Regions from separate parts of the Homo sapiens genome. Here all the other regions are linked to region 5. Evidence: fine-mapped expression QTL. A gene starts in region 5. Each other region holds a variant in brackets. All regions are shown on one strand. Distances are from middle to middle.

Region 1 (4,522 bases), 210 kb before region 5:
TCTTCAAAATGGGGTGATTTCTTAGTATAGCAGACTACACAGACATAATCAGATGTGACCTATCCCTTCAGCCATAGTTCATCCTTGTTAAGAATATGTTTATTCAACCTTGAGGAGGTTGGGATGATGCCTAAGAGAAGAACCAACTTAGGCTTCTAGACGGACCTATCGGGAGACCTGTTCCAAGTACCAATAATGTCTCTTCTTCAAAGATGTGGGCATTGGTGACCCACTATTAGAGATTTTATACAAGTTTTGGGGCTATCAGGGACCTTAGAGATCGTCTAGTCTGGATTCAAACATTAATCCAGGTATCCCATCCTCAAAGATTGCCAGGGAGCTGCATAAGCTTCCCAGGTGATGTCAATGCGCAGCTGGATTTGGAAGTGAATGCCTAAGTAAAAAGGATAATTTAGGCAATCACTTCAAGGTTCATCCTTGGAAAGTGGATTGTTTCTACTTTTTGGCTGTTATGAATAATGCTGCTATAAACATTTGTATATAAAAAAAAAAAAAAAAAAAAAGAAATTAGATCTCTCCGGTATCTAAATATGTACATATGTACATTTTTTTTTTTTTTTTTTTTTTTTTTTTTTTGAGATAGAGTCTCGCTCTGTCACTCAGGCTGGAATGCAGTTGTATGATCTCCGCTAACTGCAACCTCCACCTCCCGGGTTCAGGGATTCTCCTGCCTCACCCTCCCGAGTAGCTGGGACTACAGGCGCCTGCCACCACGCCTGGCTAATTTCTTTTTTTTTTTTTAGTAGAGATGGGATTTCACCATATTGGCCAGGCTGGTCTTGAACTCCTGACGTTGTGATGTGCCCGCCTCGGCCTCCCAAAGTGCCTGGATTACAGGCGTAAGCTATTGCACCCAGCCATGTGCAGGTCTTTTTAGGCAAAACAATGCCAGGCACTCAAAGAATGTTGGTCATTAAAAGGGTATTTCACTTTTAGAAAAATATATAACTACACACTTTATTCACTATAATCACTATTCACTTTATTTTAAATTGTGACATATTAAAAAAAGATTATCTATTAATTGCATACTTCCATTAATGTAATCCTTAATAAGATGCAAATTTTTAAATAATCCTTTATGTTTGAGGAAGAAAATGGTTAAAAATCAAAAAAGGTTAACATTAGTTTTTTGAAACAGGTTAAAATCATCACTAGTAATTAGCTGATGAAAATTCATTGTTCTCTGGTTCACTAGTTTTATTTAAGTGTGTTGTCAAAATGCAGATGTTAACAGGAATCACCTACTGAAAAACATGCTAAAATTCAAGGTCAATAAAACTGAGTTAATTTTAAAAAATCATTTTACCTACTAACATCTAGGATTTCTACCTCATTTCTCAACTGTAATAATACTAGAAGTACCATAAAATACTATAATTAAATACAAAATTGACTATAAAGTTGAACCCCAACAATGAGAGGGAATGTCTTAACAAGTCATTACCAAAAAGTGACTGTTTAAATATAGAAAATATGATTTTATAAGTGTAGGAATGAGTTTTTTTCCTACCATCTTTTCAATATTCATTGAGCAGTTATTACATGGCAGGCATTGGGATAGATGCAGGTAGCTACAAAAATCAGTACAACTCTGATTTGATTATGCCCACAATCTGGGGGTACAGAAATGGAAAAATGTGTGTCATGGAGGGCAGGAGAAATGCAGAATACAATACACTGAATGGATACAGAAAACAGGAACAAGATACTTCAGGAGGAAGCTTTGACTCCCACAACAGAAGTATTGGGTAATTAATGAACTATATTCCAAATCAACATATTTGCCAATGGAAAAGAAAGTTCATAAAAACTTGAAAAAATTTGTCCCATTTTATTTATTTATTGAGACAATTATTAATGCATTTATTTATTGAGACGGAGTCTTGCTCTGTAGCCCAGGATGGAGTGCAGTGGTGCAATCTCAGCTCACTGCAACCTCTGCTCCCGGGTTCAAGTGATTCTCATGTCTCAGCCTCCTGAGTAGCT[G/A]GGATTATAGACATGTGCCACCATGGCCGGCTAATTTTTGTATTTTTAGTAGAGACAGGGTTTTGCCATGTTGGCCAGGCTGGTCTCAAACTCCTGACCTCAGGTGATCCGCCTGCCTAGGCCTCCCAAAGTGCTGGGATTACAAGCATGACCCACCGCACCCGGCTGAGAAAATCTGTTTCAAAAAGTAGATAACAATTAAAATATTAATATGTTGCTTTAGCCGTTTTACTTCTAACAATTTATCAGAAATACAAAAGTTCATAAGGATATATAGATGATATTCACTGGATGAAAAAAATCCCCAAAAAACTATGAATAACTTAATAGCCATCAAGATGGGACTTGGTAATACATTATCATTCATTTTATGGAATGCAGTCATAAAAATGAATGAAATAGTTTCATTTGTATTAACATAAAAATCTAAGACCTATTAGGTAAAAATGTAAGTCACAGAATACATATATGATGGGTCCATTTATTTAAAGAACAAATTAGGAGACATGTAAACATATCAGAAGGGGAACAGAGAAGAGTCACACTTAAATTCTGACTCTGTAGCCCAGGCTGGAGTGCAATGGTGCAATCTCAGCTCACTGCAACCTCTGCTCCCGGGTTCAAGTGATTCTCATGCCTCAGCCTCCTGAGTAGCTGGGATTACAGACATGTGCCACCATACCCAGCTAATTTTTGTATTTTTAGTAGAGACAGGGTTTTGCCATGTTGGCCAGGCTGGTCTCAAATTCCCGACCTCAGGAGTACCTGAGATACCAGCTACTTTTTGTTTCAAAAAGTAGATAACAATTAAAATATTAATATGTTGCTTTAGCAGTTTTACTTCTAACAATTTATCAGAAATATGAAAGTTCATAAGGACATATAGCTGGTACTAGGAAACAATACACTTTTACAATGTTTAAACTGCATGAAAAAACACTATTTCTGAATCAAGTGTAAAAAAGGTTTTTTTTTCTTTTCTTTTAGTGGGTAAAGTCTAGTTATTCTGACTGCTTATCATTATTACTGTTGATTCTGGTAGTGAAAAAAAACTTTTGAATTCCATTGAGATAGTAATGAACACAGAATTGTAACAATAGACAGATGGAAGTAATATAAAAACACTGTTGAATTTGAATATTTCTTGCTTTTTTGCTTTCACAGAAACACATTATTTTACATTTACTTTATATAAGTGAGGTATTTTATGGTGTTTTCTAAATTCTATTAAGAACATTCTAAAAAGAAAAGGTGACTGTGACAGACAGATTAAAATCCAATCCACAGGCAGTCCCCTTTGGCAAACCACTCTGATTAAGTGGCTCTATTTTATTTCAAGAATATATATCTCTTGCCCCTTTAGGAAATATGTGAATGTTTTCCAAAAGCAAGTAAAGAGTGCCACATCTTAAGCACTAGAAAGCCTATGAGCTTTATCTGGGATCTTTGCTTTCATAGGCTTGTGAAGAAAATCTGAACATGCAGACAGGCAGTCACTGTCACATATTGAAGTTTAACAGTGACTAGAGGAACTATAAAAGCCCAAAACTCTATATTCATTCTGCAGTCATACAAAGAGCAGAGGGTGAATAATTTAACTTCCAAAACAATTAGTCCAGTCCTTTACTTCAAATTCTTCAATAATCCTCCTTTTCCTATAGCAGTCATCAGACATGTACATAATACCTCTGCCTTTTTTTTTTTTACCACAACAGTGCACACTATCTGTTTGCTATTTGCTGAATATTTTATTTTTATTTTATTTTATTTTTGAGTCATAGTCTCACTCTGTTGCCCAGGCTGGGGTGCAGTGGCGTGACCTCGCTCACTGGAGCTTCTACCTCCCAGGTTCAAGCAATCCTCACGCTCAGCCCCCTGAGTAGCTGGGACTACAGGTGTGTGCCACCATGCCCAGCTAATTTGTGTATTTTTAGTAGAGATGTGGTTTTGCCATGTTGGCCAGGCTGATCTTGAACTCCTGGCCTCAAGTGATCCACCTGCATGGCCTCCAAAAGTGATGGGATTACAGGCATGAGACACTGCACTCGGCCATGCTGAATATTTTAAAGCTTAAATACATTATTTGAAAAGAGAACAGTATCACTATCAATACGAAAAATAACATATTAATTCCTATAAATTGAAGATAATAAAATACAAAAAAACAGTATTTTTTTTAAAATTAACTAATTAATTTAGAGACAGGGTCTTGCTCTGTTGCCCAGGCTGAAGTGCAGTGGCATAATCATAGCTTACTGCAGCCTTGAACTCCTGGGCTCAAGCAATCCTCTCGCCTTATCTTCCCCAGTAGCTAGGACAACAGACACGTGCCACCACACCTGGCTAACTTTTAAATATTTTTTTGAGATGAGGTTTTGCTATGATTCCCAGGCTGATCTCGAACACCTGGGCTGAAGCGATCCTGTCACCTCAGCCTCCTGAGTGGCTGAAATTACAGGCTCAAGCTACCAAACCTGGGAAAATGTACAATAGTTTTATTAAATTGTAACTA
Region 2 (4,522 bases), 210 kb before region 5:
TCAGAGCAGAACTGAAGGAGATAAAGACATGAAAAACTCATCCTCCCACCCAAAAAAAATCAATGAATCCAAGAGCTGTTTTTTTTTAAAGATTAACAAAATAGACAGACCGCTGGCCAGACTAATAAAGAAGAGAGAAGAATCAAATAGACACAATGAAAAATGATAAAAGGGAGATCATCACTGATCCCACAGAAATACAAACTACCATCAGAGAATACTACAAACACCTCTACACAGATAAACTAGAAAATCTAGAAGAAATGGATAAATTCCTGGACACATACACCCTCCCAAGACTAAAGCAGGAAGAAGTCGAATCCCTGAATAGACCAATAACAAGCTCTGAAATTGAGGCAGTAATTAATAGCCTATCAACCAAAAAACATCAAGGATCAGACGGATTCACGGCCATATTCTACCAGAGGTACAAAGAGGAGCTGGTACCATTCCTTCTGAAACTATTGCAAACAATAGAAAAAGAGGGACTCCTCCCTAACTCGTTTTATAAGGACTGCATCATCCTGATACCAAAACCTGGAAGAGACACAATAAAAAAAGGAAATTTCAGACCAATATCCATGATGAACATCAATCCAAATATCCTCAATAAAATTCTGGCAAACCAAATCCAGTAGCACATCAAAAAGCTTTTCTACCACGATCAAGTAGGATTCAACCCTGGGATGCAAGGCTGGTTCAACATACACAAATCAATTAACGTAATCCATCACATAAACAGAACCAATGACAAAAACCACATGATTATCTCAATAGATGCAGAAAAGACCTTTGATAAAATTCAACACCTCTTCATGCTAAAAACTCTGAATAAACTTGGTAGTGATGGAACATATCGCAAAATAATAAGAGCTATTTATGACAATCCCACAGACAATATCACACTGAATGGGCAAAAGCTGGAAGTATTTCCTTTGAAAATTGGCACAAGACAAGGATGCCCTCTCTCACCACTCCTATTCAACATAGTATTGGAAGTTCCGGCCAGGGCAATCAGGCAAGAGAAATAAAGGGTATTCAAATAGGAAAAGAGGAAGTCAAATTGTCTCTGTTTGCATATGACATGATTGTATATTTAGAAAACCCCATTGTCTCAGCCCCAAATTTTCTTAAGCTAATAGGCAACTTCAGCAAAGTCTGAGGATACAAAATCAGTGTGTAAAAATCATAAGCATTCCTATACACCAATAACAAACAGAGAGCCAAATCATGAGTGAACTCCCATTCACAATTGCTACTAAGGGAATAAAATACCTAGGAATACAACTTAAAAGGGATGTGAAGGACCTCTTCAAGGAGAGTTACAAACCACTCTTCAAGGAAATAAGAGGGGACACAAACAAATGGAAAAACATTCCATGCTCATGAATAGGAAGAATCAATATCGTCAAAATGGCCATACTGCCAAAAGGAATTTACAGATTCAATGCTATCCCCATCAAGCTACCACTGACTTTCTTCACAGAATTAGAAAAATCTACTTTAAATTTCATGTGGAACCCAGGAACAGCCCATACAGCCAAGACAATCCTAAGCAAAAAGAACAAAGCTGGAGGCATCATACTACCTGAATTCAAGCTATGCTACAAGGCTACAGTAACGAAAACAGCATGGTATTAGTACCAAAACAGATATATAGACCGATGGAATAGAA[C/A]AAAGCCCTCAGAAATAACGCCACACATCAACAGCCATCTGATCTTTGACAAACCTGACAAAAACAAGCAATGGGGAAAAGATTCCCTATTTAATAAATGGTGTTTGGAAAACTGGCTAGCCATATGCAGAAAACTGAAGCTGGACTCCTTCCTTACACTTTATGCAAAAACTAACTCAAGATGAATTAAAGTCTTAAATGTAAGACCTAAAACCATAAAAACCTTAGAAGAAAACCTAGGCAATACCATTCATGACATAGGCACGGGCAAAGACTTCCTGACTAAAACACCAAAAGCAATGGCAACAAAAGCCAAAATTGACAAATGGGATCTAATCAAACTAAAGAGCTTTCTGCACAGAAAAAGAAATTATCACAAGAGTGAACAGGCAACCTACAGAATGGGAGAAAATTTTTGCAATCTACCCATATGACAAAGGGCTAATATCCAGAATCTACAAAGAACTTAAATTTACAGGAAAAAAACAAACAACCCCATCAAAAAGTGGGTGAAGGATATGAACAGACACTTCTCAAAAGAAGACATTTATGCAGCAACAAACATATGAAAAAAAGCTCATCACCACCAGTCATTAGAGAAATGCAAATCAAAACCACAGTGAAATACCATCTAATGCCATTCAGAATGGCGATCATTAAAAAGTCAGGAAACAACAGATACTGGAGAGGATGTGGAGAAACAGGAATGCTTTTACACTGTTGGTAGGAGTGTAAATTAGTTCAACCATTGTGGAAGACAGTGTGGTAATTCCTCAAGGATCTAGAACTAGAAATACCATTTGACCAAGCAATCCCATTACTGGGTATATAGACAAAGGATTACAAATCATTTTACTATAAAGACACATGCACACTTATGTTTACTGCAGCACTGTTTACAATAGCAAAGACTTGGAACCAATCCAAATGCCCATCAATGATAGACTGGATAAAGAAAATGTGGCACACATACACCATGGAATACTATGCAGCCATAAAAAGGATGAGTTCATGTCCTCTGCAGGACATGGATGAAGCTGGAAACCATCATTCTCAGCAAACTAACACAGGAACAGAAAACTAAACACTGCATGTTCTCACTCATAAGTAGGAGTTGAACAATGAGAACACATGGACACAGGGAGGGGAACATCACACACTGGGGCCTGTCAGGGGCTGGGGGGCTAGGGGAGGGATAGCATTAGGACAAATACCTAATGTAGATGACAGGTTGATGGGTGCAGCAAACCACCATGGCATGTGTATAACTATGTAACAAACGTGCACATTCTGCACATGTATCTCAGAACTTAAAAAAAAAAAAAAGACTGTGGCTTCAGTGTTGTGTTGAGTCTCCTGTCTTGTCATGTGTAGCCCTATGGAGACTCATGGGAAGGAATTGAAGCCTCCTGCAAATATGTCTGCGTGTGAGCTTGAAAACATACTCCAAATACTTCTGAGACTGCATCCCTAACCAACAGTTTGTAACCTCATGGGAGACCCCTGGCCAGAACAACCCAGCTAAGCTGCTCCTGTATTTCCAACCCTCAAAAACTGGGAGTGATAATAGATGTTGTTCTAAGTTGCTCAACTTTAGGATCTTTTGTTACAAAGTAATACAGATAACTAACATATACAGTAATCTACCCAAGATGACATTGCTAGAAGTGGCAGAGTTCAAGCCACTTCCAACATACTTGCTGTTAGGAAAGAAGGAGAGGGCATGAAAGGAACCAAGAAAAATAACTCAGAATATTTCCCCACTGCTGTTAATGAAAAGAGAAATAAAAGGGCAAACATACTGGCTTCCCATCTGCTCCTCCTCCCAAATCTTACAGAAAACACTTTGCCATCTTTCTTTCCCATCAGTATCTTGTTCTGAAATATATAAAATACCTGTCAAGCAAAAGCCTTTTTAAAAAGGGTTGATTTCATCAATCTGGCTGTCTACTTTCTTTCTTTTTTTTTTTTTTTTGAGACGAAGTCTCGCTCTGTCGCCCAGGCTGGAGTGCAGTGGCGGGATCTCAGCTCACTGCAAGCTCCACCTCCCGGGTTCACGCCATTCTCCTGCCTCAGCCTCCCAAGTAGCTGGGACTACAGGCGCCCGCCACTACGCCCGGCTAATTTTTTGTATTTTTAGTAGAGACGGGGTTTCACCGTTTTAGCCGGGATGGTCTCGATCTCCTGACCTCGTGATCCGCCCGCCTCGGCCTCCCAAAGTGCTGGGATTACAGGCGTGAGCCACCGCGCCCGGCCAGGCTGTCTACTTTCAAATCACAACTGAAATCCCCAGAACAGTGGTTCTCAAACTATGGTACCTGGAACAGCGGCATCAGTATTGGCCTGAAGCTAGTGACAACTGCACATTTTGCGTCCCCACCCCGGGCTACTAAATTGGAATCTCTAAAGGTGGGGCTGAAGAATCTGTGTTCTAAAGGGCTTTCCAGGGGATTCTTATGCACACTGCTCTAGATTTAAGACTCCTGTGAAAATGACAGTGGCTGTCCTAGAGCTTTGTTCCTACTGATGGCTGAAAGTGTTTTTCAGATATGACCAAAGACTTTGGGTGGCCTTCAGCCTAATCAAAATATTTAGAGATTTAATTACTAAATGCCAACCCATACAAATGTAAAGATTTTTCCTACAGAGACTTTGTGGTGAACTGAATGCATTTTTTAATCAACTGCTTGGCAAGCAGTATGAGTTTTCTTGTTTGTAAACATCTATACTAATGCTAAACATATTTATTCACAACTTGACAAGAAATATTGCCCTGTAATTAATCATTTCCCAGACTGAATTCAGACAAAATAAAAATGCACTCCTGAAATGTGCATCCCCTTCACA
Region 3 (4,522 bases), 160 kb before region 5:
AAAACTAGACAAAAAAAAAGAAAAGGCAAGTCATAAAGAGGCATTACAAATGCTGAATAGAAGAAAAAGAATTTAAAAATGCTACCTCTCCTGTTGGTAAAGAATTACAGCAATGATAGCCAAGACATGGGAAAATAAATGGGCAGTCAACTCACTGATGTTAGCCCTCTACAAGTCCTTCAACTATTACTGAGGTAATTCAGCAATGCATGTGAAAACCTTAAAATGTGCATACATTTTGACCCTTACACTTCTAGGAATTTATCTTATATGAATAATCCCAGCTTTATGTAAAGTTATGAGAACAAGGAGGTTCATGGCATTATTTTAAATTTGTAACACCCTGAATATCAAATAACAGAGCACTAGGTTAAGTAAACTTGTATATCCATACAAGTAAATACCATTCCGCCACTGAAAATGTTATAGAGAACTGTACTAGGACAGGCAAAACACATAAAAAAAAGAAAGAAAGCAGACTATATAATATTGTCAATTATATGATATAAGTCTAGTTTTGTCAAAACTAGTGTGTGTATATATATATATTTTTTAAAAAGGTATATATAAATATATCTGTGTAATCTATTTTATAATTTTCTCTTTTGTTTGTCCTTATTTTAATAATTAGGAAAAGGGACTACTATTTATAAAATAACCTAAAATAAGGACAAAAGACTATTTAGCAAACTACTAAGTCGAGCCAATTTCTTAGGCAAGCCCATATGGACATGTTGCTCGTTTAGGAATGAGACCATCTTTCCTAATTCCTAATTCTCTGACAGTGGGTGGGGCAGCATGGAAAGAGGAAAAAAAGGATTCACAGTATCTGCAATCTCCTGAATCCATGGGGCACATCCCACCAGACTACATCTCACCTCTGCTATACAGGAAAGGAATCAGTCCAAAGGATTTCAGCCTTGTTCTTCTGAATGATTTTCCTAAGTTCACTACCCACATCTAATGATGCCTTTACCAGGCTTTATCTGAATTTTAAAGTAACATCTCAAAAATACTAATAGTACAACTTTCAGATGCCCTGCCACATAAGATTATTCTTAAGATGCAGAGATTCTTGACATTATTCCCGACCATTATTGATTGTCTTGCTGAGAAATGCACTGTTTTCTAATTGTTGCATTCAATGCTTCATTTTCTCTATGCAATAACATTAAGGAAAACAACAACCCTAACTCTTCTAATAATTATATATTTTTCCAAACTATATGGCATTATACTTTGATTCATGGTCCATTTCTCTTTAACACTCTACAAAGGCATCTACACAGAGGACTCGTAATCAATTCCGGAGCTTGCTGGGACTAACGACAAAATTTACTAAGCCCCAAATCTGTTAAATTATTCAAGTCACTTACCATAAAACAAAGTAGGTTGCATTAAAACCTGGATTTTGAAGACAGAGTAAAGAGTAAAAATCTTATTTTTGGCTTGTTTCTGAGGGTATGTCAGTGAGGAGCATGTAAATAGATTTTGAGTGTTCTATTAGGGATGGTTTGAAAATGTGGTAGCTAGCAGATACACCGATCATGTGGAAGACACAAAACCAAATGCAGTCACCAGGACCCACTTATTACTGAGAAGTATTGGCAGGTAAAATGGAACAAATGTGAGGTGGGCAAGGAGGGCCAGATATTCTTGGAAATTTTAATTAACTAGACATCAGGAAAAGATATGCAAAAATCAACATTTATGAATTCCTCACACTGGGAAAACTACTGCCGGGGGAAAAAAGAAAAGGGCCCAGAGTGGTAGA[T/C]GGTTTTCCATCCTCTAGCTTATGCAGAGTGACTTCCCTAAATAAAGAGCTATTCTAAGTGGAAGTGGAGACTAAATGACCAGCTGATCAACACAAAATTAATCATTCTCCACAGACTAGACTATCAGGTCGACTACCACTAGAAAGAATGGCTGCCTGGAATTTTAATCTTTTCCACTCTATATGAAAAAAATACATATTTTCAAGCAAACCTGCAAGAATAGAAATGCAGGGTAGTCATTTCAAAAATAATGCTTGTGTTGTATAAAGTATTGAGCACTATATTCGAAAATAAATTCCTACAAGAGTTCTACTTCCCTACAAAGAAAACAGTCGCTTGCAGATAAGGTATTTCAGCAAACACATGTGGTGTGTAATGAAATGGGTTTTGCTTTGTTACAATAAATTAAAATGGACACCAGACCTGAAGAATCTCTGAGCAGACAAAGCCAGTTAGGCCTCATAAGTGATCTTAACTCTGCTTGATTTGCAGACATAAACAAAACTTGAGCTATTTCTTGTAAATGCCTATGTTACAGAAAAATGAAACTTAAGGCTAACCAATTGGAAGCAGAAAGTTCTAGTTATCTAACTTATGGTTACATAACTAGAACTTTCCAGGAGGATAGACCAAATAAGGCAACAGTATAACTGTAACCAATCCAGTATTTTCTTTGCTTTACTTTCGTGTTTGCCCTATAAAAGTCTTCCCTTCACATTCTTTTGATGGAGCCCTGGAAGCACTTTTGGTTTGGAGCTGCTCAATCCGTGAATCACTGGTTATTCAAATCAACTCCTGACAATTTTACGGCACCTCAGTTTAAGTTTAAACAGCTCTGTGCCTCAGTTATACGCATGTATCTGAAAGAAAACAGGATATTCTTCTTTGTACTTAAATAAACTCTAAATGTGCAATAATTTAAAAATATGAGACAGCACAAGTGAATCCTAAAATATATTAAAACGTAAGGCATTTGCATATACCTGATTCTGAAAATATGGCATGCAGTTTTACTTCTCTGGCTTCACATTCTAAAGTTTCTGAAACATATACCATAGAGCACAAAAAGAGCTGGCCTCTTCTCAAATTTATAACAAATTATATTTTGTTCTTCTTTCAAACATGAATTTAATCCTCCCTTTATTAACTGTTTCCTTGGTTGTCTGAGTAGAGAATCATTGTAAGCTGAGTCACTTACACCTTCCATCAATTTCAAAACAACACATGAAGTAACACTGATTATCACTGAACCTGTATCAGACACCTCCCATTTCTGAGATGTGCATTTATTCTAAATCTAAGTTTTGGAAGTGATAATGGAATGAAACACTCAGAAAATATAAAAAGCCAAAGTTTTCACTATGCTTTAGAAAGGTTTGCAAGTTGGTACTTAAAACAATGCTTTAAGGTATTATTTTCATGTCTATAGATGAGGTAATACAAGTTTACAGAGTATATTCAAATGGCTAATAAATACATGAAAAGGTGCTCAACCTCATTAGTCATGACAGAAAGGCCATAATGAGATAATGCCTCATACTTACCTGAATGACTAAAATTGAAAAGACTAACCAGTAGCAAAAGTAAAGTAAAAGATAACAAATGCAAAAGAGTATACAGTACATGATTCCAGTGATATTAAGTTTAAAAATAGGTAAAACAAATCTGTGATATTAGAAATTACCTTTGAGGGCCGAACACAGTGGCTACTGCCTGTAACCCAAGCACTTTGGGAGGCCCAGGCGGGAGGACCCCTTGAGATCAGGAGTTTGAGACCAGCCTGCGCAACAAGGTAAACCCATCTCTACTAAAAATACAAAAATTAGCCGGGCATGGTGGCAGACGCCTTTAGTCCCAGCTACTCAGGAGGCTAAGTCAGAAGAAAAAAAAAAAAAAAAGAGAGAAAAGAAAAGAAATTACCTGTGGAGAGAAAGCAGGGTAGGAAAATGATGGGGACTGCATGAGGAGGAGGCTTCCAGGATCCCTGTTATGTTTTATTTCTTTTTCTTTTACTTTTTTTTTTTTTTTTTTTCCAGACGAAGTCTCGCTCTTGTCTCCCAGGCTGGAGTGCAATGGCACAATCTCGGCTCACTGCAACCTCCGCCTCCTGCGTTCAAGCAATTCTCCTGCCTCAGCCTCCCAAGTAGCTGGAATTATAGGTGCCTGCAACCACGCCTGGCTAATTTTTGCATTTTAAGTAGAGACGGGGTTTTACCATTTTGGCCAGGCTGCTCTTGAAATCCCGACCTTCTGCCCACTTCGGCCTCCCAAAGTGCTGAGATTACAGGCATGAGCCACCGCATCCAGCCATGTTCTATTTCTTGATCTGGCTGGAGGTTAGATGATATGTTCACTTTGTAATAATTCATCAAGCTGTATACTTAAAATTTGTATACTGTTCTGTATGGAGATTATACTTTAATAAGTTTATTAAATTTTTTAAATGATACTGTCATATGAAATTATTTTCCCTCTAAATGAAAAGTGTGCGTGTGTGTCTCAATATGTGTAATAAAACAACCCTCTGAGGTAAGTACTGCTATTATTACCACTTTATAAACGAGGATACCAAGGCACACAGAAGTTAAATAGCATGCCCAAGGTCCCACAACCAGTAACTGGTAAAGACAAGACTGGAACCCAGGCAGTCTGGCATAAGAATCCCACTAAGAGTCCCTTCCATTCTTCAACTTGTCTTTGGTGCTTAGGTAGCACATTTCTTCCTAGATATTTCAAGGGCTTAGAAA
Region 4 (4,522 bases), 240 kb before region 5:
GTTTATCTCATGAACATGTATTTTCCAATATGTTAAATCCAAAAAATAGTTTTTAACTTATTTAATGTCTATTTTGTGTCCTATCAAAAAAAAGCTTCTTGGGTTGAAAAAAATATTTTTGTAAATGTCTTGACCTGCCACCTTTTTATTTTCATGATTGCTTTGAATATCATGTCAAAGTTCTTACTCCGGAAACCTGGATGGTCTTCTGTGTTGCTCAAGGCTAGCTGAGGGCATCTCCCATTTTTTTGTTTGTCTTGAGTAGGTGATGCTTCCTGTAATGCCCATTTCTGCTACACGAGTTCCCTTTCATACTATGCCATCTAACTCGACTCCGAAGTTCTTGCCACCTAGTTGAGAAGACTGTAATCTCTGCCTTGGCAGATTTGAGAACAGGAATTCCATCCCAGTTTCATGTTACAGTTCCAAATGACTGTTTTTATAGATGTATCGAGTACATTGATGTTGGGGGTACTTCTTATGGGAGATTATATTGACTAACTGACTTGCAGAGTGTTAATTTTAATTGGAAGGGGTGGTTTCAAACTCAGTGCCAGACAGGTAAGTAAATGAGTAGAGAGGTATTAGATTAAGACAACAGAAAATACTCTGACATACCAGCAAGGACATGCCTTTTCAAATGGGGCAGTTGCTACACAATCTATCCAATTGTTGCCATGCGAATGTAGGCCTTTTATGCCCAGATCTTTCCTGTTTTCAAAAGCCAAAATTCTGGATTTTTAAAAACACTAGGCTTACTAGACAAAATGTATCTGAGAGCAGCATCTGTCCTTACTGCTTAATCTGTGTATCTCCCACAACTAGGTAGATGTATCAACATCCCAGAAGATGCTTTCCAAACCAGTGCATCTTTCCTGATACTATCACTACCCTCTCTAACTTTTGGATTTTCCCACTCCCTCAAATAATCTGAAAATTTCTATTTCTTTTTTCTTTATGAGATGCAATCTTGGCTCTGTTGCCCAGGCTGGAGTGCAATGTCGCAATCACAGCTCATTGCAGACTTGACCTCTCAGGCTCAAGTGATCCCACCTCAGCCGCCTGAGAAGCTGTGACTACAGGCATCTGCCACATGCCCAGCTAATTTTTAAAAAAGTTTTTGGTAGAGATGGAGCCTCGCTATGTTGCCTAGGCTGGTCCCGAAATCCTGGGCTCAAGTGATCCTCCTGTTTAGGTCTCCCAAAGTACTGGGATTACAAGCGTGAGCCACCATGCTTGGCCAGAATTTGAAAATATTTCTGCATATAATGAAATATTCGAATGGAAAACTGTTACATGTGTGAATGTTGGAATGCAGAATAAAGCTACACAGAGAGAGAAAAGAAACCAAGCAAGTTTGGAGAAGGACACAAGGATTTCTCCGGCTACAAAACGAGGATTGAAGAGTTATACAACATGAATTTACACATGACAGCAATCATGCTAAGGCTGAAGTAGCTAACACTTCTTAATCACTTACTAGATGCTAGGCACTGCCTAAGTATTTTATCTATCTTAACTTACTGATATCTCACCACGACCCTATAAGGAAGGTAACTGCTTTCCATATTTTACAGATGGCATACAGTATAGAGGCATTAGGTAACTCCTCTAAGCCACACATTTGATAATCCTAAACCCTCATGTGACTCCAGATCTACTGTGTCATATGGTTTGCCTTATACTCTTCTACTCTAACACCTTCAGTCACCTTACTGGCCAACTTGGCTGAAAT[C/G]CTTGGCATAGCCTAAAATGTCCTTTATATACACCAGATGCAACACATTCCTTAAACATGAGACAAATCCTCCCTTGAAGATCTCCTTCCATGGTAGTTTTAAAATATGCCCACAAATCCCTTAATGTTCCTCTCTTCAAGATGTAGAGCTTAATCTTCCTCCTCTGGAGCATGGGCTGTACTTAGTGATTCATTCTAATGAGCAGAATATGGTACACATGACAGTGTGCGACTTTTGAGACCAGGTTATGAAGGGTATTGGGGCTCCTTCCTATTTGTTCTCTCTCTTGGATCACTCACTCTGGGCAAGCCAACTGCCAAGCCATAAGGACGGACACTCAAGAGACTTCTATCCAGCAAGGAACCAAGGCCTCAGGCCTCCTACCAACTGCCATGTGAGTCATTTTGGAAGCAGATTGATCCTCTAGCCCCAGTCAATCAAGTCTTGAGATGACAGTGAACCTGGCATACTTCTTGACTGCAGCCTCATGAGAGACCCTGAGGCAGAACCAACCTACAACCAAAACCAGATGTCACTTATCAATAAACTCAAGGTTGAATTGTTGGCTCACTGATAGGCAGAGTTTTGAATAAGAATTTAGGTAGCTCTTTCAATAAAATATTTTTCACATTTAAATTAATGGCAGATTGCTGAATAAAATGTATATGCTTTTACCATTTAATGACCACATATGAAAATTGAAACTAATCCTTTGCCATACTGAAATATACTAAACTGCAAGTTCTAAGAAGTGACATAGATTTATACTTTTTAACAGATGATTTTCCTAAATTTTATACTTAAAAAATCCCACTATAATAATACTGCTTTGGAAAATGCTAGCTTTTTTTTCTTAATCAGGACTATGTACAGGGAATATGAGACAATTTGGTATCCTATTAGAATCTTATTTCTCTGACATGAGTAAGTTGGGCTGATTTCTATAATGATCTGTTACATATGCCTTAAGTCTTCAAGTGCAATGTGAGTTAAATGAAAAGTACTGTGGAGTTAACATCACAATTACATCTTAAGAAATTGCAGGAGATAATCTAAATTTGTTAAATATATTGCTAAGTATATGACTATCCACATAAAGCTTAATCAATTTCATAATAAAATCTACTTTAAACCCTCCAAAGTTCTGATTGTGTTCCTTAATATAGACTATTGAAAATTATTAAAATATCTGGTTTAGTGCTACAATAAGTGAATTAAGGCAAGATCAGTATGAACTACAACTGAGACAGGTATCCACTAGAGGCCAGTGTACTTCGGCATGGAGAAGGAATTTATAACCAATTCCTGTGGAAAAACCAACCTTATTCCTACCATTCAAAAGTGGAGGTCTTGTGAAGTGAAGAAAAAAAAGATGAAGAAAGCTATTTTGATTCTCTGAAAAGAAAGCTTCAGAGGATAAGAAAGATGAGTTAAGGAAGGATGAGTCATGAAAAAAAAGAGCAAAGAGAATTCTTGTCTAGAGAAAAAAAAATAGTACTACCATACACTGTACTGTTTGATGTTTCACCAACGTAAGTGTAAATTTTCAAGATACTTGGTGTAACTGTAAGCTTTTTCATAAATGTTTCATTTGGCAATATATTGGAAATAATTAAAGATCTGGAGTACCTAGAAAGTACCACAGTAATTTCATTTTCAAGGCAGTCATCATTGCTAGCTGCCTAGACAAGGCCAAGGGTTTTGAAATGGGATGGAACAAAACTGCATGTCTGCAATTTTCTTCCCTTAAACAACTGTATTCAGAACAAGTACCAAATGGTTCCTTCTCAAACATGGAATAATTCATATAAATTCACCTAGCACTACATTCATATTGTAAAATACATTTCTTAATAATGGTGCGACACGATGCCTACAATACTTTTTAACAAGGAACTGAACTAGTTTCTCAAAACTAAAAATCGGAGTGGAAATGAAAATCTGATTCTTTAGTAAAACGTAGACAATAATAGTTGGTAGGATCCTGAGTAGGAGATTTTACTTTGTAAGAGTGAAGGCTGAATGATTTAACACATAACCCACAGATGTGTACTCTTTCCCCTTTTCCTCCAGCAGAGAAAGGCACCTTATGTAATGTGGGCATGCCGGGGAGATGAATGAACCAGAAAATCTTAGAGCTAGGCAGGACCTGAGGGTTCAGCCACCGCAGCTTGAACCTTTTCAAAGACAAAAGTTTCCTCCTTTGCAAGGTGGCCCATTGCATCCCTCCATTGCATTGTTGAGGCTATAGCTGTTTGAAAGTTATTCTTTAATCTTTATACTGGGGGACCTCATCTGACACAACAAAATACTGTTCTGGTTCCTGAGGCCAAAAAGAGGACATAAGATACAAAGATAAATAATACATGATCCTGACTTCGAGGAGCTGTAAAATTCTACCCATGCAGTAGGTTCTGATTCTGATCTCTGCAACAAAAGCACTGGCTCTATCACTTATTAGCTGTGTGAATTAGCTAACTTCTTTGGGCCTCAGTTTCTTCATCTTTAAAATGGGGATAATAATATTAGTACCTACCTTTGCAGGGTTGGTGCCAGGATTAAATGAGATAATTAAAATAAGGCACTAAGCCCAGTACGTGGCAAGTGGTAAGTACTTATTAGCAGTCAGCAATTATTGCTACTCACTATTTACCTGGCATATAAGTAATTCAACCCTTTCCAAACTCCTATGAGCTATGATTTTATTACCATTATTTTTAGAGACAGGAAAACTGAGGCTCAGAAAGCTGAAGTAGTTTGCCAAGATCAGCAGCTAATTAATGGCT
Region 5 (4,522 bases):
TCTAAGCAGAAACTGGGTCTTTTATTTCTGTACAGACAACAGTTTTTCACAAGGCCTGGTGGTATAAAATAGGTCTGGGCCAAGAGTGGCAACAGATTTCTGAGACACTTGGTGAGGATTCTTAAGTATGATGAGAGAAGTGGGCCATGTTTAACTGCAATGTCTGCCACGGGCAAGGGACTATGGAAACGTAATATCAAATCAGTGTACATGAAACAGATCATAGGAAGCACCCAAGAATTTGAAAATAGCAATACTCACCATTTTTATGGACAATTCTAAGATGGTCATAAAGAAAAAAATAAAAATGTGTCAGTGGTGCTAATGACTTGGATGTTATATAGTTACTACTGGCATGCAGATTAATTTGCATGTTGATATAATATATTTTCATGAGGAAGTATATACTCACCAGGAAACAGCATGGTGTAACGGAAACGTAAAGGTAAGCCTTTACTCTGGAATGCCACAAACTCTCACTGTATCGTTGAATATGTCATTGAACTTCTTTAGGCCTCAATTTCTCTACCCATGAAATGAGCTGGCTGGACTAAATGATTGCTAATGTCCATTTCCAGTTCTTGGACACTGTGTACCTTTCTATCTTTAAAAAAACCTACTTTTACCTTCTAAGAATTTACAGAAAAACACATCATCCACAAATATGTAAATCACAGTAACCAGATGGGGCGTGCTAACAGATCTTTTTACCCAGTTTTCTTGACAAACCAAGAGTATCTCTCCCCAACCAGATTTTCTCCTGTGTTGCGTTCAGCCTCTTATTTCTTGGTTAGGGAAGTAGGCTTCACATATTTCAGCTAAACACTCTGCATTTTCAGTTTCTCTGTACAATTCATGAGTTTTCACTGCCCTGGGCCCCATGTTTCTCATCAATTCAAGTCTACACTCATGGTAAGCACCCTAGTTCTTGTTTTTTCTAACACTTAAATAATGAATAGGACTTCATCTCCTAGAGCTATTCTCCTTACTCTATTACAACAGTTATTAGTGAGTTTTAATTAGACAAAACTGCCATTCCTTTTGCTACCTCACTATACTGTCAAGCACCTATTAAGAATATTACAGTAGTAAGTATTAGCACCTTTTAAATTTACATTAACAATAACAGAGAAATGGGGAGGCAGGAAATGAAAGGAGAGGGGTAAAAATAGCTCACAGATGTCATAACCAAAGTTTAGAGGAACTCAAAAAATCATTAATCACTATTTTTTAAATTTTCTAAAAAACTATACTATGCACATCCTGGTTAAAATTGTATGAGTGATAATTTGCCTCTCATCAATTAAAAATGGGGAAATAGGCAAGGTCATTAACTCTGCTGTGGCTGAATCCCAGACTGTGCTTTCTTTAAAAGGGAAGAGAGATAGTCTACGGAGACTAACCAGTTCAGTGGTTGAGTGATTTCTACAAGAGTCATCACCAACTCAAAACTTTCCTGAAGTCCTTCTGACTATTTTAACGCTTGCCATCTGCAGAAGGTAAAAATCTGCTAGAGGCCAAGTTCCAATCGCTATCCAGCCCACCACTGACCCTCTTTGATTTCATTCTCCATCAACAAGGAGGACATGGACAGGGTCAATGGTCTAATGCGTTTTAGTGACAGCCCTGATTTTTCATTGGAAAGAGGAGAAAGATCGTTTCCCATTTTTCTCCTTGACCCACGGATTTGACCAACTCAGGCACATTAAAAGTCTGCAAAAGCAGGTAGCCTGCAGGAAGTTCACCCTAGGGGGTGAGTTCCTAGTTGGGCTGAAACGGGTTTCCAGGCATGTTTATCACGTGGTCTAAACGTGCTCAGGGTTAGTGCCAGAAGTTTGAAAAGCAGAATTAGTAGAGCTGACAATAAAACCTCAGGGCTCCAAAACCCGGTCCAAGAAACTTTTCTTAAACTTGCGTCCAGCGCCTGCTTCAGCGCCTTCGCCATGAGTCTGCGCGGGCAGACAGCGGAGACTCTAGTGCGTTGGGTCGCTCATACCCCGAGGCACCCGGGGCTGCCGCCGCGCCGCCCCTGCCCCACACTGGAGCGGGGTTCCCTGCTGCGCCTGGACCCGGCGCCGCGTCACCTCCCGAAGTGGGGCGCCCGAGGGGCCGCGCAGGGGGTCAGGCGGAGACCAAGAGTAGCAGGGGGCGAGGGAAGCCCGGGCAGGCCGGCGCCGCTGCTGGCGCCCGCAGCTCCTGCCCCCACGCTCACCTGGGACCCGGCCGCCAGGAAGCGGGGCCGCAGCGCTAGGGCTCGCAGAAGCTTCCCGGCCTGCGCTGCTACGGGGGACGCCATCTTAAACAGGAAACTCGGCACGGGGCAGTAGGGCGGGCGCGGGCAGGGGAAGGAGGCGGAGGAGGAGCAGCGGGAGGAGGGGTCAGAGGAGAAGCGGGCGCGGGGAGGAAAAGGAGGAGGAGGCAGAGGCGGTCTGGGCCGGGCCGGGCCTGACCCCTGCGTCCCGGGGGCACAGGCGTTCTTAAGGCTGCAGAGCCCTGGGTCCCCCACCCGGCCCCGGTTCACTTTGAGCGGTCCCAAGGCCTGAGGGCCTACTGTCCAGTCCCCAGGTTATCGTCCTGAGCAAAGACAGACCCCGAGCCCTGCGGTCTTGGGGCTCAAACAGTCCCTGGATGGCCAAACAAGCAAATATTCGCCATGGCAGTGGGTGCTGGAAGGGTGGCTCACGGAGCTGACGCCCTCCGCAGAGAACCGTGGTCTAGTCCTGCGGTCACGAGGCCTATCTGGGACAGTGGTGTTTGAGCTGAGACTTTAACGAATAGAGACAGGTGAGGTTCCTGCAGCCCAGGGCTTCAGGTGAGTCAAGGAGAGGCCATTGGAGGCTCTCCATCCCTTAAGGAGTTGTGGGTGTTTTGTTTTGTTCTATCCTTAACCTAAAATCAATGTAAAGCTGAGAGATGAAGCCGGGTGGGTCGGTTGGGGACTTGGAGAACTTCTCTGTCTAGCTAAATGATTGTAAATGCACCAATCAGCGCTCTGTGTCTAGCTAAAGGTTTGTAAATACACCAGCCAGCCCTCTGTGTCTAGCTAATCAGGTGGGGACTTGGAGAACTTTTCTGTTAGCTAAAGGATTGTAAATGCACCAATCAGTGCTCTGTGTCTGGCTAAAGGTTTGTAAACACACCAATCGGCACTCTGTAAAAACGCACCAATCAGCGCTCTGTGTCTAGCTAAACGTTTGTAAATGCACCAATCAGCACTCTTTAAAAAGGGACCAATCAGCACTCTGTAAAATGGACCAATTGGCACTCTGTAAAATGGACCAATCAGCAGGATGAGGGTGGGGCCAAATAAGGGAATAAAAGCTGGACACCGGCGCCAGTAGTGGCCCCTAGTTGGGGTCTCCTTCCAGGTTGTGGTTGCTTTGTGCTTTTGCTTTTTGCAGTAGCTCTTGCTGCTGTTCACTGTTTGGGTCCGCACTATCCTTATGAGCTATAACACTCACCACAAAGGTTTGCAGTTTCACTCCTGAGGTCAGGGAGACTGCGAACCCACTGGGAGGAATGAACAACTCCGTATGCCCCACCTTCGAGGGCTGTAACACTCACTGCAAAGGTCTGCAGCTTCATTCGTGAAGTCAGCGAGACCACGAACCCACAGGCAGGAACAAACAACTCCGGACGGGCCACCTTTAAGAGCTGTAACACTCACTGTGAAGTCTGCGGCTTCACTCCTGAAGTCAGCGAGACCACGAACCCACCGGAAGGAAGAAACCCCAGATACATTTGAACATCTGCAGGAACAAATTCTGGTCACGCCATCTTTACCGCGAGGGTCTGCAGTTTCATTCTGGAAGTCAGCGAGACGATTAAGAACCCACGGGAAGGAACCAATTCCGGACACAAAGCTATTGGAGGATTTTAAGCCCAGTAATCAGAGTGATAAAAGCAACATTCATTTGGAGCTGTGAACCCCAAATACCTGACACAGGTCTCAATCAATTTAAGAAGTTTATTTGGCCACAGTTAAGGACACGTGCCTGTGACACAGCCTCAGGAGGTCCTGACATGTGCCCAAGGTGTGGTGGAGGACACAGCTTGGTTTTATACATTTTAGGGAGATATGAGACATCAATATATGTAAAATGTACATTGGTTTGGTCCAGAAAAGCGAGACAACTGGAAGCAAGGAGGGGCTTCTAGGTTATGGGTAGATAAGACACAAAGGGTTGCATTCTTTTGGGTTTCTGATTGGCCTTTCCAAAGGAAGCAATCAGCTGTGCGTCTATCTCTGTGAGCAGAGGGATGACTTTGAATAGAATGGGAGGCAGGTTTGCCCTAAGCAGTTCCCACCTTAACTTTTCCCTTTACCTTAGTGATTTGGGAGTCCCAAGATTATTTCCCTTTCACAGAGTTTACGCGAGTCTAAGCAATGTGCATATAATAAAAACAACAGCAAAGTTACTGAATGTGTGCCAAGCATTAGACAAATATAAACTTGTTTAGTCTTCATAGCAAAGTTTTAAATGAGTAGAAGTGTACAATCCCCATTTTGCAGAAGAGAAAA
Region 6 (4,522 bases), 170 kb before region 5:
TGAAACACTCTATTATCACGATGTTTGTCAAATACTGAAAGATCTGACCACTGTCCTTTTCCCCAGACAGCACAAGGAACACAGATAACAAATGAAGGTTGTACTCTGTAGCAAGAATAGACAGGAGACTGAATCACAGCAAAACACTTATAAATCAAGAGGCGGAAAGAAAGCGCTAAGAGTGATTAAATGCACGAAGAGCAGTAATAGGAAAGAAATCTCTTGTGAAAAGAAGCAGTTGATGGTAACTTAACGGGGACAAAAATGAATTAGATCTACCTCGATGACTGAGCTCAAGATGAGGTAATTTCATAAAGTTTATAGAAAGTCACTTAAAAATTACACAACTTGATGTAGTCTACTTTTGGAGAGAAGGAAAATAAAAGTCCTCCATGAGGGAGTTGATCTTTAGAAAAATGCATTTACAAACCACATTGATGAACTCTACCTATTATCTGGAAGATTATCCTTAATTCTCATCTGGGTAACAAAGTCACTTTAGAATGGATACAGTCCTCTGCATTTCAGGGACAGATTTTGAAACAGAAATAGAAGAGAATAAAAATCTTCAAATATAAGGGGTTATAAAGCGTATGGGGAAGGAAATAAAAATAAGTGTTAACAGAGGTGAGCTCTGGGCCACCATAGGACGCAAGAGTGTGCTGAGGCATATTCTCGGTTTGGTTAAGAATAGTACTCATGGTATGTGAAACAGGACTTTCTGTGTTGTCAGTGACCGAAAATCAACTCTAATTTAAGGGGTTAAAGGGAACCAGTTGGCTTACACCTGGGAAGGATGCTAAAGTAACTCACAGAAATAAGGAGGAGCTATAGAGCTGTAGTAGACATTCTCAAATGCAAGCAAACACGAGAATCATCTAGAAGGCTTGTTAAAACTCAGATTCCGGGGCCTCATCCCAGAGTTTCTGACTCTGAAGGTCTGGGGTGGAGCCCAAGAATCTGCATTTCTCACAGATTACCAGATGATGCTGATGCTGCTAGTCCAACCACACTTTTGAAAACCATGGAGTCATGGAAACCTAGGCTAGAGGAACTAAGCCCTATGATGGCAGGAGCCTCCATCATAGCATGGCAGGAGCTTTGCTCCTGGAGCTTACACAGGCTTTCACCAGCTACTAGGGAATGTAGCCTCCTGGGCCACATTATTTTCTTTCATGATCCCAGAGGTAGGTGGCCTCTTTCATGAGCTTCCACAGAAAACCCCTGGGGAAGGTTCTAACTAGCTTGAGGGACTTGTGGCCAGAGACCATCCCTGAAAGTAACCTACAATGGCAGGGATGCAGTAAAGCAATTGGCCTGGCCTGGGCGAAAGCTTACTCTGTGAGCAGTAGCTAGGGAAGACAGGATCCAAGTGAAGACATACAGAGAGAAAGAAGGCATCACATTTTACAGCATCACCAAGGTCAAGGAAGTATCCCCAAAGAGACAAGAGGAAGATTCATGGAAAAGCAGGGTGAGCAAAGAATAGGACAATGTGATTACCGCAGCCCATAAGGAAGTTCACTTTGGCATCAAGATGTACAATCACATTCACTTATGACACTGTTTTTTTTACAAACATATCATCTACACTCATAGAGTGCTGCTTCTTACATAATCTGTGATGATGAATGAATTTTTAAAAATAATTCCCTAACTCATTGACTTGTATTATTATAAAATGTAATAATGCAAATTACTAAAAAATTGATATTCCTCTTGCATGTCATGGCAAGGGTAATTAGCAATACAAGTTTCTAAATGCTTATTCTCAGTATCTGTACTTATCACAAACCTAAAACAGCTCACAAACAGGCACTGGTACATAAACTGGCATGGGTCCAACCACACACTTTCGAGCATTACTGCTCTAGACCACGTGGACCAGGACTTCTTGGTCACAACTTCTTAACTCCTTAAGAAAGTGAATGAGCACAGCTGTATTCCGGTACAACTTTATTTACAAAAACAGGCATTGGCCAGG[A/G]CTTGGCCATGGACTGTAGTTTGTCTGTCCCTACTTTAGACCAGGGCTTTTCAAACTCTAACGTGCACAGCAATCACCTGGAGATCCCATGAAAACACAGACTGTGCATTTCTAACAGCTTAAAAATTGTTGTCAACACTGACAGTCCATGGCTGACATTCTGATTAGTAAGCCTTCACAGACAAATCTCAGTAAACCTAGAGACTGGTATGTGACCTTAAGTATAATATTGCTCTATACTGGGTTTTTATTGAGCCTTAAAAAGACTGCAGAAAAGACTACATCTGTCATTCAGGTACCTACCTTTCTCTGCTTTAAAGAGATTATTACAATCAGAAAAAAATTGATAAGGAAAGCCCCATTGGAACCAATAGCATCAAATATCGGATGGTTTCCTACTTTCTCGATTAGCTCCTAACTTGACACATAGTAGGTGCTCAAGAAATAATTGTTGGCAGGGCGTGGTGGCTCACGCCTGTAATCCCAGCACTTTGTGAGGCCGAGGCGGGCGGACCACCTGAGGTCAGGAGTTTGAGACCAGCCTGGCCAACAAGGCGAAGCCCTGTGTCTACTAAAAAATACAAAAATTAGCTGGGCATGGTGGCACTCTCCTGTAGTCCCAGCTACTCAGAAGGCTGAGGCAGGAGAATCCCTCGAACCTGGGAGGTGGAGGTTGCAGTGAGCCAAGATCATGCCACTGCACTCCAGCCTGAGTGACAGAGTGAGACTATCTCAATAAGAAGGAAGGAAGGAAGGAAGGAAGGAAGAGAGGGAGGGAGGGAAGGAAGAAAGAATTGTTGATTGCAGGCTGGATGCAGAAATACCAAGCTGTAACCACTAGAAGAGAAATATAGTATGCTGATGGGGCTTCACTTTCCGTCCTATACCTTATTTAAGGTATTTCACACTGTAGGATAAATTGGTGCAACTTTCAATTGGCAGTGCCTTTAAGGAAGTACCTGTATAGAAAAACTGAATCAAAGAATTTGTTCTTTCAGTATAAGTTCTCTTCATGTTTCTATACTTTTGTATTTTTTTACTTTAGCTTCATTCACCCTTCTTATTTGAATACCAAATATCTATTCTTTGGAATTTGGTCAGCACTGTCAGCATTTGGATTAACTATTTGGTCGTTCAGCTTAATGGAGAAGAAGGCTCCACTCATGAAATGCAACTACTGATCACAGGTTATAAAACACAGAAAATATCAGAAATCATCTAAATATGAGGTGATTTTGGTGTTTTCTCTCACACCTGCTACCCAAATGCCAAGACTCTTGGATCATAATGACACACGGAAGATTCTAAGTCACTTTTGTCTCCCTCTCAGAGAAATGTGCTACTTGGGATTAACGAGCAAGTGAAACCTAGAAGGTCAAGGGTTAAAGCTCCAAATGGATTTTCTGCTTGCTGTTTACGATCTTCAGGCCTTTCAGTATTAGAGCAGACACCTAAACGTTTGCTCAAAAACTTTCTATTGAGTTCTAATTGAGAAAAAAGGATGTGTCCAGAATACTTAGAGATAACAATTAATGAAAAAACCCACAGATAAGCTGGAAGAAAAATAATTAACTCGGATTTGTACCAGATGGCCCTTGGGAATGCTAATATGTGTGTTTGCAGTGCTCCATTTCAGAAGACCTCAAAGGTGGAAATGAAGCATTCTCAGGAGAGGTTCCTGGGTATGCAGATGAAATATCCATTGATATTCAGAAAGGACCTCTAATTGCGAGAGAGTTGCCACCCAAATTAGGGTAAAGTTGCTGCGTAAACTATTTAAGTGGACAAAACTTAAAAAAAAAAAATCTGTAATAAAGCAAGCAACATTGCTCAGAACACTTTGGTAGGTCAAGACAAGAGAAAGGAGGACAACTCCGAGGGGCAGATTCTTTCATTGATAGCATTCATGTCATTACCCACAAACTCCAACTCCAAATCATGGAACGGCGATGACATTTCTTTCTCTAAGGTCAACTATCAGAGAGGTCTGCTTGGACAAATCTATCAGAAATAACAAACACCTGGCATTTTCAAGCCCCCTTTCATTTTTATATTTCAAACTAGCAGACAGCACCAGCAGATATATTGCATAATTTTCTTTTACTAGTTACTCACCAGTGTAAACGATTTTCTATCCTCTTTAAAATGGCACCTCCAGTGAACAAGACGAGATGTATTTCACTCACTGCTTTATCCTCAGTGCCTATAAGAATGCCTGGCAGGGATGACACTTAATATATTCTTGTTTGGCTGATGTTTCTAAATGGCTTTTAATCCAGTTTAGTCATTCTGTGGTCTGAGGAACTAGTAACTGATTTCACAAAGGGGTCTTTGCAGAGCTGCCCCCTGACATGCTGGAGAACACCCCCCTACCTACTCAAGTCATTCTTGCTGTGGAATGAATCTTGAGCTCATGGTTGACACCCTGACTTGTACCTATGGCTGAGTTCCTGGCTTAGTTATCTGCCTGGTACTTGAGTCTCCCTAGAACCAAGCTTTGGCTTACAGGAGGCTTGCCATGAATGGAGTTTGGCCCTT
Region 7 (4,522 bases), 130 kb before region 5:
TTTTATACTTCCTTTTAATTTATAAAAAGAATATTTGCTTGTTCAAAAATAATGCAAACGATACCAAAAATATATAAATGAGAAAGTGAAAGCAGCTTCCTGCTGCACAGCTCTACCTCAAATAAACCCTCGGGCCCCAGGAGTCAGGGCAGATACGAGCCTACCAGGAACCTCCGTGATAACTAGAAAAAGGCACCCCTTCCTCTGGGAATATGTGGTCATTTGCCAGGGCCATGACTAGACAGGGGACAAGTGGGATGGAAGAATGTCATTCAATTCCACAAGTGAGTGGGGACTCACTGCCTCAGCCAGGTGTCCTTTTGCTCTGTAGGACTTGAATTTCATGTAACAGCCCCACCAGGAAAAACCACTGCTGACATTCTAGTCCTTTTCTATGTATCTGCAAGCATTGCAGTAATGGAATAATCCTACATGTGGAAGCACATTATATACAACAGGATGCCTTTCTTTTTTTTAATCTTTTTTTTTTTTAAAAAAAGACAGAGTCTCACTCTGTCACTGAGGCTGTAGTGCAGTGGCACGATCTCAGCTCCCTACAACCTCTGCCTCCCTGCAACCTCTGCCTCCCATGTTCAAGCAATTCTCATGCTTCAGCCTCCCGAGTAGCTGGGCTTACAGGTGCCTGCCACCATGCTTGGCTAATTTTTGTATTTTTAGTAGAGATGGGGATTCACCATGTTGGCCAGGCTGGTCTTGAACTGCTGACTTCAAGTATCTACCTGCCTCAGCCTACCAAACTGCTGGGATTACAGAGGTAAGCCACCACGCCTGGCCTCTTTTTTAAAATCTTAATACTACAACTTAAATATCTTTCTAAGGTCTTCTCTCTTCATTGTGATTACATGGTATTTATATGACAATATTTATTTAACCATGTTCCTGCATTTATTTATTTATTTATCTATTTATTTATTTGTTTATTCATTTTGAGATGGTCTTGCTGTGTTGCTCTCAGGCTGGAGTGCAATGGCACAATCGTGGCTCACTGCAGCCTTGACCTCCCAGGTTCAAACGAATCTCCTGAGTAGCTGAAACTACAGGCACGTGCCTCCATAGCCACTTAATTTTTGCTTTATTTTTTGTAGAGATGGGGTCTTGCTATGTTGCCCAGGCTGATCTCAAACTCCTGGACTCAAGCAATACACTCGCCTAAGATTCCCAAAGTGTTGGGATTACAGGCATGAGTCATGGTGCCTGGCCTGCTGACAGACATTTACATGAACTTCAATTTTCCTAAAATGCTACTTTAGTGAGTATTTTTGTACATGTATCTTTGTTCATTTCTTTTAGTATCCCTGTAGATAAGTATCCTAAAAGTGAAATGTCTAGGTTTTAAACTGTGAATATTTAAAATGTTGATAAGTACTGTCAAAGTGCTTGAGAGAGGTTGTTCCAACTTACGCACCTAACAAGAACAGTGAAAGATATCTTGGATGTTTAAAGAATATAAAAACAATCCCATAAATAATCAGTAATAGATGTGAAAACAATGAAAGCACTAACATTGCTTTTCTTTCTTTTTTTTTTTTTTTTTGTTGAGACAGAGTCTCGCTCTGTCGCCCAGGCTGGAGTGCAGTGGCGCGATCTCGGCTCACTGCAAGCTCTGCCTACCAGATTTACGCCATTCTCCTGCCTCAGCCTCCCAAGTAGCTGGGACTACAGGTGCCCGCCACCACACCCGGCTAATTTTTTTGTATTTTTTAGTGGAGACGGGGTTTCACCATGTTAGCCAGATGGTCTCAATCTCCTGACCTCGTGATCCGCCCGCCTCGGCCTCCCAAAGTGCTGGGATTACAGGCATGAGCCACCGTGCCTGGCCTAATTGTTTTGTATTTTTAGTAGAGACGGGGTTTCACCATGGTCTCAATCTCCTGACCTCGTGATTCGCCCACCTCCGCCTCCAAAGTGCTCGGATTACAAGTGTGAGCCAACGCACCCGGCCACATTGCTTTTTTTACAAGTAGTTTAGTGATGGGTTCCACAAAAAAAAGTTACAGATTAAGTAGCATTAGATTTTAACTACTCAGATACCACAAAAACACTTAAGTTTTAGGTCACATGAAATGGGATAAATATATAATGATCTAAAAAGCTATAATGGAATGAATATAGAACTCCTCTTTTTCAAACTTTTGTTGAATTTACCATTAGTTAAAAATAAAATA[T/C]ATAGGTCTTCATATTGATTTATCAGAAATGGAAGTTCATAAGTATATAAAAACTGTTTCTCAGCACATGGTGTTAGAATTAGCACAGAACCATTCTGATTTCAAGTTGGTTGTTCTCACCAACAATGAAGGTCAAACCATCAGTCAGTGCCTAATTCTCCCAGTCTTCAGGTTGCTTGAAACCGTAAATTCTTTCAGAATTTCTGATTGAGGGGTAGGACAATATTTGAAGCAAAAATACTTAGCCCTATTCTTTCCTTATAAAATACAGTAACAACTTGTCGTTTATAGAAATAACATAAAGTCTGCCTTTCTAAGCATCAACATTAATACAAACATTTTAAGAAATTAAGATAATCATTTCTTCTAAAACTTTCTCTAGAAGAGAAAGCTGTTTTAAGAAATTTGATTGGCACAAAATACAAAATGAGGAGTGTGTTTGGTATATGCTTTCAGGTCTACTGGCATAATACTGTTCATTTTCTAATGCAGAGTTAGTTTAGAGAATAATACTTAATGACTTTCAGTAGTTATTCTTAGAGGCAACACAAAATTATAACTTTTTAGGATAAGTGTCATTCAAGAGTCCTATTCTTAATCTTCAAAAATGTTGACAGACGTGCTCTGTATTCCACCAAATTTCTATTTGTGAAGCCCAGCTACTGTCTGAAACAGCTCTTGCTTCACAGGAATAATGCATGACTCTTTAAGAAAATGTCACCAGGAAAATGATAATTATCAAGAGATAATTCAAGAAATTTTATACAACAAAGACCAGTTTGTTGACATCGTCATGCCTTCCAAATGACCGAGGATGACAGAGTATATTAGGAAGTGTTACAGAGAAATCTAAATGGAATCCACAAACACTCATCCCGGAGCAACTCCATTAGAAACATTTCAAAAGAGCTTCACCTGTGAGTTACACAAAGAATATGTTGACACATCGTCTTTGTGGAGTCCACCAGTATAGAAAGCTTTTTAACTTTCTTTGACCTATCTACTGCTGAATCTGTTTCCTTAAAAATATCATGCTACTGGAATTGTGGTCAGGAGATGAGTGCTAGCGTACAAACTATTTGTAACACACCCATGAACAGAGAAGATTAAAAGTACATTCTCGAATTTTAAATTGATTACAGAGCAGTAACCACTATTGGTACTGAATCCTGGACCGCATGATGAGTAGCACTGTCTCACAGGCCCTAGTACTAGCCCCAGGAATACATAACACATTGGCACAGACTTAGAAAACAAATATCTGATGTGTATAAATGTGTGTATGTGTTTAAATAGCTTCTGAAATAAATTTAGAATCAAAAGGTTCTATAATCTGGGGACTTATACTTTTGAGAAGATGGAGTAGACATGTTTTTCCCTATTCTTCCCGCTAAGTACAAATAAAAGCCTTGGACATATATATACATAAAACTTAAGGTGACTCTGAAAGTTATAGAGAAGAAGGGAGACTAGCTAGGGAGCTTGAGGTCCAAGGAAGCGTATGGTAGTGAGTCTCCTATGTTTTCTTTGGCCTCATAAATCTCAGGCAGGGTGCTGGGTGCTAGAGAAGCCAGCAACCCAAAAACATTAACAGGCACAGACAAATAAATCTCCAGGCTCACATGGTTTCACTAGGGAACTTCACCAAGCATTTAAAAAGAAATCAACACCAATTAACAATGAGCATGTTGGACACTGAAATTAAGAATCCAATGCCACTTGTAATTGCTTTAAAAGAGAACAATGTATGTGTAAGACTGACAAAACATATACCAAACGTATATGCTGAAAACAATACAATGCTGATGAAATAAATCAAAGGAGACCTAAAAGAAGGAGAGACATATCATACTCATGGGTTGCAAGGCTTAACATAACAAAAAACCAATTCCCTCCAAATTCATATACAGGTTTAATAAGATTCCTATCAAAATCTTAGCAAGATTTTTTCGTAAAGATAAAATTGTTCTAGATTGTACATAAAAAGGTATAGGAACTAGAACAGGTAAAACTGTTTTGGAAAAGAAGAATAAAGTGACAAGAGTTATTCTACTCAATTTCAGAATTTATATAAATACAGTAATTAAGACTCTGTGATATTGGTGGCGGGACAGCCACAAAGATCAATGGAACAAAACAGAGAACCCCAAAACAGACCCAAAGAAATATGCCCAGCTGAATTTTGACAAAGATGTAAAAGCAATTCAATGGAGAAAAGATAAGCCTTTTCAAAAAATGGTGCAGGAGTAATTGAATATCATAGCCCTTTTGCCCCTTAAAAAATAACCTTGACCTAAGTCTCACAACTTATTCAAAAGTCAACTCAAAATGGATCA

What was found. PIP is the estimated chance that this variant, and not a neighbour inherited with it, causes the effect. A credible set is the group of variants that fine-mapping cannot tell apart.
Region 1: its variant is the best candidate, but not a certain one, in a credible set for the expression of SUCLG2 in breast (GTEx, PIP 0.74).
Region 2: its variant is the best candidate, but not a certain one, in a credible set for the expression of SUCLG2 in subcutaneous fat (GTEx, PIP 0.71).
Region 3: its variant is the best candidate, but not a certain one, in a credible set for the expression of SUCLG2 in whole blood (TOPMed, PIP 0.77).
Region 4: its variant is the best candidate, but not a certain one, in a credible set for the expression of SUCLG2 in lung (TOPMed, PIP 0.75).
Region 6: its variant is the best candidate, but not a certain one, in a credible set for the expression of SUCLG2 in nasal epithelium (TOPMed, PIP 0.74).
Region 7: its variant is the best candidate, but not a certain one, in a credible set for the expression of SUCLG2 in NK cells (Gilchrist 2021, PIP 0.85).

The regions. Positions count from the first base shown.
Region 1 is chr3:67,445,852-67,450,373 of GRCh38, forward strand. The region is part of intron 9 of SUCLG2 (succinate-CoA ligase GDP-forming subunit beta); the gene reads right to left. Among named protein-coding and RNA genes, the nearest start is that of SUCLG2, 210 kb to the right of the region's middle. The variant G/A (reference allele first, on the strand shown) is at 2,011.
Region 2 is chr3:67,438,379-67,442,900 of GRCh38, forward strand. All of the region lies in intron 9 of SUCLG2 (succinate-CoA ligase GDP-forming subunit beta), which reads right to left. Among named protein-coding and RNA genes, the nearest start is that of SUCLG2, 210 kb to the right of the region's middle. The variant C/A (reference allele first, on the strand shown) is at 1,676.
Region 3 is chr3:67,487,574-67,492,095 of GRCh38, forward strand. The region is part of intron 9 of SUCLG2 (succinate-CoA ligase GDP-forming subunit beta); the gene reads right to left. Among named protein-coding and RNA genes, the nearest start is that of SUCLG2, 160 kb to the right of the region's middle. The variant T/C (reference allele first, on the strand shown) is at 1,775.
Region 4 is chr3:67,413,914-67,418,435 of GRCh38, forward strand. All of the region lies in intron 9 of SUCLG2 (succinate-CoA ligase GDP-forming subunit beta), which reads right to left. Among named protein-coding and RNA genes, the nearest start is that of MIR4272, 190 kb to the left of the region's middle. The variant C/G (reference allele first, on the strand shown) is at 1,736.
Region 5 is chr3:67,652,291-67,656,812 of GRCh38, forward strand. SUCLG2 (succinate-CoA ligase GDP-forming subunit beta) reads right to left here and starts at 2,322. Exons shown (of 11, transcript NM_003848.4): 1 at 2,213-2,322. The coding sequence starts at 2,296. It overlaps SUCLG2-DT (SUCLG2 divergent transcript), which reads left to right and starts at 2,407. Exons shown (of 7, transcript NR_109992.1): 1 at 2,407-2,812. RefSeq lists a silencer at 1,934-2,613 and an enhancer at 2,129-2,628.
Region 6 is chr3:67,479,460-67,483,981 of GRCh38, forward strand. The region is part of intron 9 of SUCLG2 (succinate-CoA ligase GDP-forming subunit beta); the gene reads right to left. Among named protein-coding and RNA genes, the nearest start is that of SUCLG2, 170 kb to the right of the region's middle. The variant A/G (reference allele first, on the strand shown) is at 1,985.
Region 7 is chr3:67,521,124-67,525,645 of GRCh38, forward strand. All of the region lies in intron 4 of SUCLG2 (succinate-CoA ligase GDP-forming subunit beta), which reads right to left. Among named protein-coding and RNA genes, the nearest start is that of SUCLG2, 130 kb to the right of the region's middle. The variant T/C (reference allele first, on the strand shown) is at 2,187.